Homo sapiens: one gene and its partners. The protein of the gene in region 2 purifies or fractionates together with the protein of the main gene of each other region. This does not show direct contact. Each region holds a gene or a part of one and is shown on either strand. Other genes may lie near its edges.

What was found.
Region 1: the proteins of RFTN1 (region 2) and GUSB purify together in Homo sapiens (co-immunoprecipitation; one large-scale study listed by IntAct). This does not show direct contact.
Region 3: the proteins of RFTN1 (region 2) and AZGP1 purify together in Homo sapiens (co-immunoprecipitation; one large-scale study listed by IntAct). This does not show direct contact.

The regions. Positions count from the first base shown.
Region 1 is NC_000007.14:65,960,106-65,962,771, reverse strand, and holds the end of GUSB (beta-glucuronidase isoform 1 precursor), read left to right. Parts: intron 1-1,708; coding exon 1,709-1,875; 3' UTR 1,876-2,088; downstream 2,089-2,666. UniProt on the Homo sapiens protein: Plays an important role in the degradation of dermatan and keratan sulfates.
Region 2 is NC_000003.12:16,510,870-16,515,190, reverse strand, and holds the start of RFTN1 (raftlin), read left to right. Parts: upstream 1-1,491; 5' UTR 1,492-1,749; exon of another isoform or gene 1,750-2,120; intron 2,121-2,274; exon of another isoform or gene 2,275-2,407; intron 2,408-4,321. UniProt on the Homo sapiens protein: Involved in protein trafficking via association with clathrin and AP2 complex.
Region 3 is NC_000007.14:99,969,554-99,973,105, reverse strand, and holds part of AZGP1 (zinc-alpha-2-glycoprotein precursor), read left to right. Parts: intron 1-1,099; coding exon 1,100-1,360; intron 1,361-3,552. UniProt on the Homo sapiens protein: Stimulates lipid degradation in adipocytes and causes the extensive fat losses associated with some advanced cancers. May bind polyunsaturated fatty acids.

The DNA of each region.
Region 1 (2,666 bases), on a different chromosome or scaffold from region 2:
GCCTCCCGATTAACTGGGATTGCAGGCATGCGCCACCACACCCGGCTAATTTTGTATTTTTAGTAGAGACGGGGTTTCTCCATGTTGGTCAGGCTGGGCTTGAACTACCGACCTCAGGTGATCCGCACATCTGGGCCTCCCAAAGTGCTGGGATTACAGGCATGAGCCACCATGGCCAGCTGAAACTCGGTCTTAAAAAGAAAAAAGAAATGAGCTGCATCACGTTGGGCAAGTCACCTAAGCTTTTCATAAGCCTGTCCAGTGGGGATAATGCCACCTCCTTGTTGGTGTCGTAAGGGCTGCATTTGATGAAGTACTTGGCGATGCCTGTGTTCACTTATGGAAGAAACAGTCTTGAACCTTTTGGTGGGGAAAGCCCCCTTTCCATTTAACATTTCCATTTAGTGGTGGTCTTACTGGGGACAGAGAATGTCCTGAGAGCACAGCCCTGACAGGTCGTTGCCAGCTGTGCTCCTCCACCAGGCTCAGCTCAGGCCTAATGACCACCAGTGGTGGGTGCTGCCAAGCTGGACGTCAGCCCCGGCGGACTTTGAACTCCATGAGTAGGTCCCACGCAGGGACCTGTGGCTGGTCAGGACCCTGGCTCCCACTAGGCGCTATCTCTTCAGAAAGGCCCAAGGCTTTTCAAGGGTAACTGTCCCAGATACCCCTAGCCCTCTGCCTACCCAGTTACCAGACAGCTGGGTACCCAGCATGTAAACCTTAGTTTGCAAATAAAAGATAAACTTTTAGTGCTTTTTTTTTTTTTGGAGATGGAGTCTCACTCTGTCGCCCAGGCTGGAGTGCAGTGGCACAATCTCAGCTCACTGCAACCTCTGCGTCCTGGGTTCAAGCGATTCTCCTGCCCCAGCCTCCTGAGTAGCTGGGACCACAGGCACCCACCACCATGCCTGTATAATTTTTGTATTTTTAGTAGAGATGAGGTTTCACCATATTGTCCAGGCTGGTCTTAATCTCCTGACCTTGTGATCCGCCTGCTTTGTCCTCCCAGAGTGCTGGGATTACAGGCATGAGCCAATGTGCCCAGCCAGTTTTTGTATTTTTAATAGAGGCGGGTTTCCTCATGTTGGCCAGGCTGATCTTGAACTCCTGACCTCAGGTGATCCACCTGCCTCAGCCTCCCAAAGCACTGGGATTACAGGCGTTGGCCACCACACCTGGCCACTGTTTTGGGTTTTTTTCCCCTAACAGACTAGAAAACTAGAAATTAACACACCAGGGAACCTGGGTGTTTGGGCAGAGCAGTGGTATTTAAATATTTCAACCCATAAATTGTCACTTCAGAGCAAGCATCCTGAAACTGTAAGAGGACATTTGGCTGAGCATGGTGGCTTGTGCTTATAATCCCAGCACTTTAGGGAGGCTAAGGAGGGCAGATTGCTTGAGCCCAGTAGTTTGAGACCAGCCTGGACAACATAATGAGACCTTGTCTTTACTAAAAAATAAAAATAAAAGATTACCGGGCATGGTGGTGCTGGAGAGGCTGAGGCAGGAGGATTGCCTGAGCCCAGGAGGTTGAGGCTGCAGTGAGCTATGATTGTGTCACCGCATTCCAGCCTGGGCAACAGGGAGAAAAAAGAAAAAAAAAGACATTTCTATTTAGTGCCTACCTTAGCTCCAGACTGGTTCTAACTTGACCCATCAGAAGACATCTGAATCGCTTTGTGTCTTTTTTTTTTTTTTGTAGCACCGACGAGAGTGCTGGGGAATAAAAAGGGGATCTTCACTCGGCAGAGACAACCAAAAAGTGCAGCGTTCCTTTTGCGAGAGAGATACTGGAAGATTGCCAATGAAACCAGGTATCCCCACTCAGTAGCCAAGTCACAATGTTTGGAAAACAGCCTGTTTACTTGAGCAAGACTGATACCACCTGCGTGTCCCTTCCTCCCCGAGTCAGGGCGACTTCCACAGCAGCAGAACAAGTGCCTCCTGGACTGTTCACGGCAGACCAGAACGTTTCTGGCCTGGGTTTTGTGGTCATCTATTCTAGCAGGGAACACTAAAGGTGGAAATAAAAGATTTTCTATTATGGAAATAAAGAGTTGGCATGAAAGTGGCTACTGAAAAGCATCTGAAATCATTTCTGTGCGTCGTGCTGTTTTCAGAGCTTTAACTGTGTGTGGACTTTTGAGAAACTGCTGCTCCAACACCCCCACCACGTTCAGAGCAGCTGGTTCCCGAGGGCGTCTGCAGGAATAGCCCCATGGTCCTAGGGCCACCGTGTTTGTGTAGCAAACCAGGCCAGCCTCGACAGGGAGTGAGTAGAAGACTTTCACAGCTGCTGTTCGACTCCTCAGATGAGCTAAAGTCCCACATGTACCAACAAATTCATAGAAACGCTGTCATTGTTGCAGCACTTAACAGGGTCTGTGTGCCAGTTTCTACATAGTTAAGCTGGCAGTGTCTGAATTGGAAGGTTAGAGGTAACTGGTTCTCCCAGAACATTGTTTTGACCTCAGCCATAGGGTCTTGACAGAAATGGACAGATGAGTGTAAAAGCCTATTGGCTTTATCATAACGGATGCCACTGAATGTGACAGGACCTCCTTAAACAACTTTGCCTACAAATCAGCATTCCATGCCTTTACACCCCAAAATGACGCTACCTGCCCCCTCCCAGAGCACAGTCTTTCCTTAAGGAATCT
Region 2 (4,321 bases):
GGCCTCGGGCAGATAGATAGCATGAAGACCCCTCCCTTTGGCTTCATAAATGGGTGTTCACAACCTCTGGTGATGCCCCTGAGCAAATGTCCCTGCGCACTACTGTCTGAACCTGGACTTACGTGGTCACCTGGTCTTATTTTCTTTCATGTGGCAAGCTCAAGTGTAGGGGGGAAATGGGGGACACTGGGGATAGTGGTGGTGAGTGTGACACCAGGAAAAGGTGGGGTGGAAAGGGAAAGGAGAAAAACAAATAAAAACAAAACAGTGGTGAGGGAGGGGGAGCAAAACAGAACTAGAAAGGCTATGGAAAGAGAAAATAAGGAAGAAAATCTCTGAGAAGCTGTGGTAACAGGAAGAGTCCCTGAAAACAAAATAGTGCTTCCTTACTTGCTGGAGGAGTGTTATTAGTGCCAGAAGGACCTCATCGAAACACTGCTGGGCCCCTAAACCAGCCCTCCACCCTGTGTGCTCCAGTGCTTAACTTTGCCCACACAGGGTCTTCTTTGCCCAATTAGAAAATGGAGATAATTAATTAAATTATCTCACCCTTCTTGTTCTAGCCCCCTTAAAATAATGATAATAGCTAAGTTATAGAGTGGTTGCTAAACACTTTACATATAATAACCCACGAAGAAGTGCCATGTGACAAATAGGCGCAGAGCAGTTAAGTCACTTACCCAAAGTCACACAGCCAGTAAGTACTAAAGCCAGGAATCCAACCCTGATTATTTGACTTTAAAGTTCCCCCTCTTAACCCCTACACTGTAATTCTGCTTGGTTTAGTTTTACGAAGAAAATATTTTCTAATGGCTCCTTGCCTCACATCTTCACTTTACTAATGCAGCCTGGTTTACTAGTGCTTCACTCTTTATATAATTTTCTCCCTGGGTGCCTCAAGTTGCCACGCAAGGTGATTCTCCAGATCTTCTCAAACCTCTGGACATCTTAAGTAGGTAGACCAAGGGATGGCAACGGAGACAGTGGCATTACCCTTCCCTGAAGCACTAACTCGCAAGAGAGAATTTCAGCAGCACCTGAGATGTTTAGGGATGCTCCCACCTGTGGAATGGGGTCGAGAAATGGTCCTCTCTCAAGTCGGCCCCAACCCCACCCCCAGCCATCAGCACCTTGATGGCAGTCGCCCTTTCAGCATCCTGGCTCAAATCTTGAAGGATCCTTGTCTCCCAGGCGCTCTTCCTGACAGCACACAACCTTGATTAGGAGGGGCTGGGAGGGAGGATCGATGAGCCCCTGACCCCTGGGTTCTGAGGCTGCCAGGGTCGCTTGCAGCTCGGCCGCGTGGAGGTGACCGGGCGGAACTCCGAGGGGGCGCGGGGAGAGCTGGGCGGGCCCACCGCTCCAGCGGCTGCTGTCAGGGGCCGCGAGGCTTTCCCTGAAGATGCAGCGTAGCATATTTTGCACATGAGTTCAGAGGAAGAGGAAGTGTAGCCGGCGGACGCGCGGCGGCGGCGGCGGGGGCGCGTCGGGGCTGGAGCCGGAGCGCGCCGGGCGCTGGGCGCAGCGAGCGAGAGCGCGGCGGCCGCGGGCTCCGGCGAGGGACAGACGCACCGATCGCCGGAGGGACAGACACACGACCACGCGGCGCCACCGCCCACGCCTCCACCCACCGGCGCCCAAGTCCTCCCCGCGCCGCCTCCTCTGTATGGCACAAACTTTCCTCCCGGGACGGAACACGCTGCCTCAGGGAGCCCGCGACCGCGCCTTCTCCTCCGCCGGTCCCATACGGTAGGCGGCGGGGGGGGCGCGACAGGGCTTGGGGTGTCGACCGGCACAGGCCCCTCCGTTTGGCCCCATGGACCGGGTCTCTGGCGGGTAGTGGGAACCGCGCGTGGCGCCTCCCTGCAGGTTGCTCTTTGCCGGGGCTCCGGAGCTGCCAGAGCAGCACCCCCTGGCCCGCGTCGGATGGGGACCTGGGCTGATCCTTGGGACGCCTGGATCTTGGGCCAACTTTTTTTTGCGGGGAACGGGTGTAGGGGAGTCATTCCTGGAGCGATGTAGGGAGAGGCACTTCGGAGCAGCCTGTTGGGGGTCGTAGGCTCTGCAGGCTCAGAAGCGCCTAGGAAGGACGCAGAGGTGGGGGAGCTTGGAGGCTACAGGTGGGTCCAGGACACACTGCCGCTGGGGTCCTCGGAAAAGAACAGGAGGGAGCTGGTCGCGGAGTCCAGGTTTCCGGGGTGCGCGCGGCCTGGGTGGGGCAGGGTGGAGGCGGTGCCTGACTGCCCCTCTGCGTGTGCCCTGGGAGGTGGGTTTGCTCTGGGGACAGAGGTGCTGGACGTGTAGGAGCAGACATGCCGCGCGCTCCGAGGAAGCGCCGGAACCACCAGAAGCACAGGGACGCGGGTGCCGAGAGTCCCCAGCACTGAAAACGGGGATCTCCTCTTCTGTAAGGGATTTTCTTCCCTTGTCTTAACCCACTTCTCTAGACTCAAGGGACGCCAGGATGGATATGGGTCTGGGCGAGGAGGAGGTGGTTGTGTATTTCGGGAAGCCCCGTTGTCAGGCACGCGCACCCCAGTCCTAGGCCAGGGCTGGTGCCCTTCACCTCCGGTGTCGCTGCCTTTGGCAGCAAGAACCGCGTGGAGGCCAAGGTTGTAGAACCAGGCACGCTCCCTGCTGTCTGTCTGTGACTCTGTGCTTGCCCTCAGCTGCCCTGTGTGGTTATGGGTGATCCCTAGGGACGCTGGGTGGTGTCAGTGAGTTTCTTCGGGGGCTTAAAACAAACAAACAAGAAGTACTTTTTTAAAAAAAAAGTCTGGCTCAATCTCTGTCAGTGGTCACCCCAGTTTCCAGCAACTCATGTGCTGGAACCCTTGTAGTCGGTACAGCTGTTTCAGGAGCTGGGCGCTCAACTAGACTAGGCATCTTCCAACCCCTGCCATCGTGTGTCATCTCAGGATAAGTTAAGGCCTTGCCAGGAAGGAAGCCGGGTGTAATGTGAGCGACCTCTGGGCCTGTGGGTAGGGCCTCTCTGCTGCCGGGATTCCTAATTTGTATCTCTGAACAGCTGAATCCCAACGAAGTTCAAGTGACCCCAGATGTCACCAAACCCCAGAGAGGGGTTACGAAGCAAGCTGTTTGGGACTCTTTGGTGCGTGTGTGCTAACCTCAGTGAAATCACTCTAACCTCAGACTGAGCTCTGCATCCTCTTTTGCCTTCAGTGGGGTTTCTGGCCCGCCTGAGTGATTCAAAGCCCCAGAGCTGGCACGTCATCCTCTGGCTGCATTTGTATATCAAGTCACTGGGTTGGTTTTTCTTTGTTTGCTTTTTGGCTGTATGGACATGGGGCAAATGGAAGTGGAGTGTTGTGCAGTTAGCTAGTAGATTTGGTACAGGAATTGAAAGATAATAAATTGGGAATACAAGTCAGTGAGTTCTTTTTCTCCCTCTTGAGCAGGAATTTTTGGCTTACATTCAAATAATTGCTTTGTCTGTAGGGAAACAAGCAGAAAATCTTTGGCATGAGTGATGTGAGTTCCTGTAAAGCTACTTATGTTCTTCCAGTCTTCTCTTTTCAGCAGAATTGAAACTATGTGGTCCCATGGCTTGGTGGGGCATGGTGCTTTGCCAAATTTCTAACTTGGTGGACTAAGGAGAGGACACTGTGACTCTATCCCCATCCCATTTTTTAAGATATAGAAAAGTTGCAAGAACAGTGACCCCCTAAATATACACACCTAGAGTCTAATTCACATTTTGCCATCTTTGCTTAACTACACACCTCCCCCAACCATCCAGCCATCCCTGTGTCCATCCATAAGTCCAGCTGATGGTTTTATGCACTTTAAAGTAAATTACAGATGTTGGTACAGGTCATTCCTAAACATTTTAGTACACATTTTATTATTTTGACTTCAATATGTGCTTATGGTTTCCTTAAGATAAAATTTATATACATATAGTGAAATGTGCAAAGATGGAAAGTACCATTTGCATAATGTTTTGACAGATGCATGCACCTGTGTAACCCTAGTCCTTATCAAGACAGAGAATATTACTGTCACCCCAGCAGGTGCCTTCATCCTCATTCTCAGTCATTCTCTGCCCTCACCCTCTCAGTGGCAACCACTGCCCTGTATCTCATCATAGGTGAGTTTGGCTTGTTCTTGAACTTCATGTAAATGGAATTCTGCAATATTGTGTAAAGCTCACCATATTTTTGAGATTCATCCATGTCGTATCCATGATTTGGTCTTTTTTTATTGCTGACTTATGTTCCGGAGTATGTCTTACTCCACAGTTTGTTTGTATATTCTGTTAATGGATACATGGATTATTTTAGTTTCTTTCTTCTAGTTT
Region 3 (3,552 bases), on a different chromosome or scaffold from region 2:
TTGCTTTGTCACCTAGGCTGAAGTGCAGTGGCATGATCTCAGCTCACTGCAAGCTCCGCCTCCCGGGTTCATGCCATTCTCCTGCCTCAGCCTCCTGAGTAGCTGGGACTACAGGCACCCGCCACCATGCTTGGCTAATTTTTTGAATTCTTAGTAGAGACGGGGTTTCACCATGTTAGCCAGGATGGTCTCGATCTCCTGACCTCGTGATCCACCCGCCTCGGCCCCCTAAAGTGCTGGGATTACAGGCGTGAGCCACTGAGCCCGGACGAAATGTTAATTTGTTTTTTTTGAGACGGAGTCTCACTCTGTCATCCAAGCTGGAGTGCAGTGGCATGATCTTGGCTTGTTGCAACCTCTGCCTCTCTGGTTCAAGTGATTTTCCTGCCTCAGCCTCCAGCATGACTGGGATTACAGGCCCGCACCACCATGCCCAGCTAATTTTTGTATTTTTTAATAGAGATGGGGTTTCACCATGTTGGCCAGGCTGGTCTTCAACTCCTGATCTCAAGTAATCTGCCTGCCTTGGCCTCCCAAAGTCCTGGGATTACAGGCATGAGCCACGGAGCCCAGCCTAGAAATGTTAATTTCTAACGCATGTCAGATTCCATGCACACTGGGCAAGGTTCCATTCCTCCATGGGGTGACTCAGGGATCCAGGCCAATTGCATATTGAGACTCTTTCATATTATCCTGTGGCCTTCAAAGTCGTCACCTCTAGGGATGAGAAACAAAAGGGACAAGCCAGCTGGTAGGGTCTTGGACAAGAAGAAAGACATCACTTCTGCTCACATTCTCTTTTGACAAAACTCAGTCACATGGTCCCAATATATCTTCGAGGTGGCTGAGTAATGTTATCTTCCTATGTGTCAAGCAGAGGAAATAATGTAGTGAAGACACAGGATGGTCTCTGAAATATCATCTCAGGCATGAAAGTAGAGCATATTCACTTGAGTGAGCCTCCAGTGGTGTGAAGTTGATGGCAGGAGAAAGAGCTGGGGAAGAAAAGGCCAGTGGCAGGTCTCCCCTCCTAGCCCTATGCAGCCCCACAGTGGGACCCTTGCATGGACCTCAACCATCAGAATCTTTTCTTTTGCAGGTCGTTACTCTCTGACCTATATCTACACTGGGCTGTCCAAGCATGTTGAAGACGTCCCCGCGTTTCAGGCCCTTGGCTCACTCAATGACCTCCAGTTCTTTAGATACAACAGTAAAGACAGGAAGTCTCAGCCCATGGGACTCTGGAGACAGGTGGAAGGAATGGAGGATTGGAAGCAGGACAGCCAACTTCAGAAGGCCAGGGAGGACATCTTTATGGAGACCCTGAAAGACATCGTGGAGTATTACAACGACAGTAACGGTCAGTGAATAACAGACCACAGGGGTGGAAGGTCTAACCCAAGAGGCAGCCCCCCCAGTGTGAGTGGCAAGGGATCAGCAGGATGGAAATAGTCCCAATCCCAGGGGAAGAACAGGAGACACAGCAGAAACACAGACATGTCCACATCCCACCCACCCCACAGCACAGGTGCTCCCCGCTTCCCCATCAATTGCCCCATCCTCATCCCAGGCCTCAGGTCACACAGGAAGTGATGGCAGAGTCACTTCCTATCCAGGCACCTATGACCTCTCACCTCCACACCCCACCCATCGGAGGCTGATACCCCCGTGAGAAGGCATCAGACTCACCCCTGTCCAGGGAGGTTGCCTGGAGAGTGAGCCACTCTCAAAGTCACTCAGACCTGGGCTCACCTGGTGGTTCTGCCAGTCCTAGCTGTTGACAGTGAAACGTTCCCAAAATATCTGGTTGAAATCTGCAAACATTGGAGCACTGAGACCTACCTCCAAACAAGTCTGTAATATTTAACTATGTCTGTTCTATGAAGGATGTCACAGTCTGTCCTGATCTCCCTTGCAGCTCCATCACCTAGCACAGGGTACAGCCAATATTGGCTCAATTGAAATTTGTGGAATCAACAGAGAAAAGCACCCAGCACACACCGTAGCCCATGCTGGGGGCTCAGGAAGTGCTGGATTCAAAACTGTGGGCTGTTAGAGTTCCTTGGAGCCCTAAAGTTCCTCCTTACCATACGATGCAGACCCAGGAAGGGCCACCTGCGCTATGGTCAGAGGAGCTGGTGGCAGAGCCCGTGCAGAGATGGTCCCTGTGCCCCCGGCCCAGTGCTCTTTCTCCTAAACCACACTGCCAGCCCCAAGGCAGCCAACCTCAGGTCTGGTGAACTGCTGGTGTTAAATTATCATAGAGTGGGTGTCAAAAGATGGGCTACTAAGTACAAAAATGCCCAAGGTGCTACATGGGATCTGAAGATTTTCAAAAGGAGGCAAGAAAGAGATAGGCAGATGTTTCAAGGATGTGGGGTGGGGGAGGTCTTGGTAAGGAAAATGGCCCAGGCTGTGTGTCAGCAATAGGAGAGGAGGGGGCACAGGTGATCAGAAAAGACACTGGGGGAAGCATTGATGGACAGGAATAGAAATGGCAAAGTGGATAATTAAGAGGAAGGAGGATGAGGAGATGAACACAGGGTATTAGAAAATAATAGAAGGCAGGGCTTGGTGGCTCACTCTTGTAATCCCAGCACTTTGGGAGGCTGAGGCAGGCAGATCACCTAAGGTCAGGAGTTCGAGACCAGCCCGGCCAACATGGTGAAACCCTGTCTCTACTAATAATACAAAAATAGCCTGGCATGGTGGCACACGTCTGTGGTCCCAGCTACTCAGGAGGCTGAGGCAGGAGAATTGCTTGAACCCAGGAGGCAGAGGTTACAGTGAGCCAAAATCCTACCATTGCACTACAGCCTGGGTGACAAGAGTGAAACGTTGTCTAAAAACAAAAAACAAAAAACAAAAAAAGGAAATAATAGTAGCTGACATTTACTGAGCACTTACTTTGTGCCAGGCCCATCTATGAGCATATATAATGCTCAGAATAGCCCCCTAAAACAGTGCTCTTGGCATTGCCATTTCAGAGGTGAGGAAATAGAGGCACAGGGAGTTGAGTGGCTCCAGTTCAGGCAACACACCAGGTGGGGGTGGGGGGCTGGGGAGAGACCTGGGACGTGAGCCCAGACAGCTTGAGAGCTTTCAGAGTCTATGCCAACAGCACCAACCAGTGCTGGGTAAACACCTGCTTTTATCATCAGAACAAAGAGGCTGTGTCCCCTGCCCTATGAGGTCCATTTCTGAGAGTTGTGGCTAATGGGCAAGAAGGTTGGGGCTTTAGAGATTTGGGATAAAGATATCAAACACCAGAAAGGTAGAAAGAAGTGATCAGATTAGGGTTACTTAGGTGATGATATGAACTCTTCCTAGAACTGAGAGAAAAAGAGAGCCTTCCTTTACTCATATGAAATCACAAATAATTTCTATCCAATTTGGAAGTACACTTTGGTGTAGTTGTGACAGCTTCCTCAGGACTCAGCATAAATTCAAACAAATAATTGTCCTTAGAAGAGATGCTATAGAAGAGATAGAAATATATTCATATTCTGTAGCTTTTTTTTTTTTGAGATGGAGTTTTGCTCTTGTCACCCA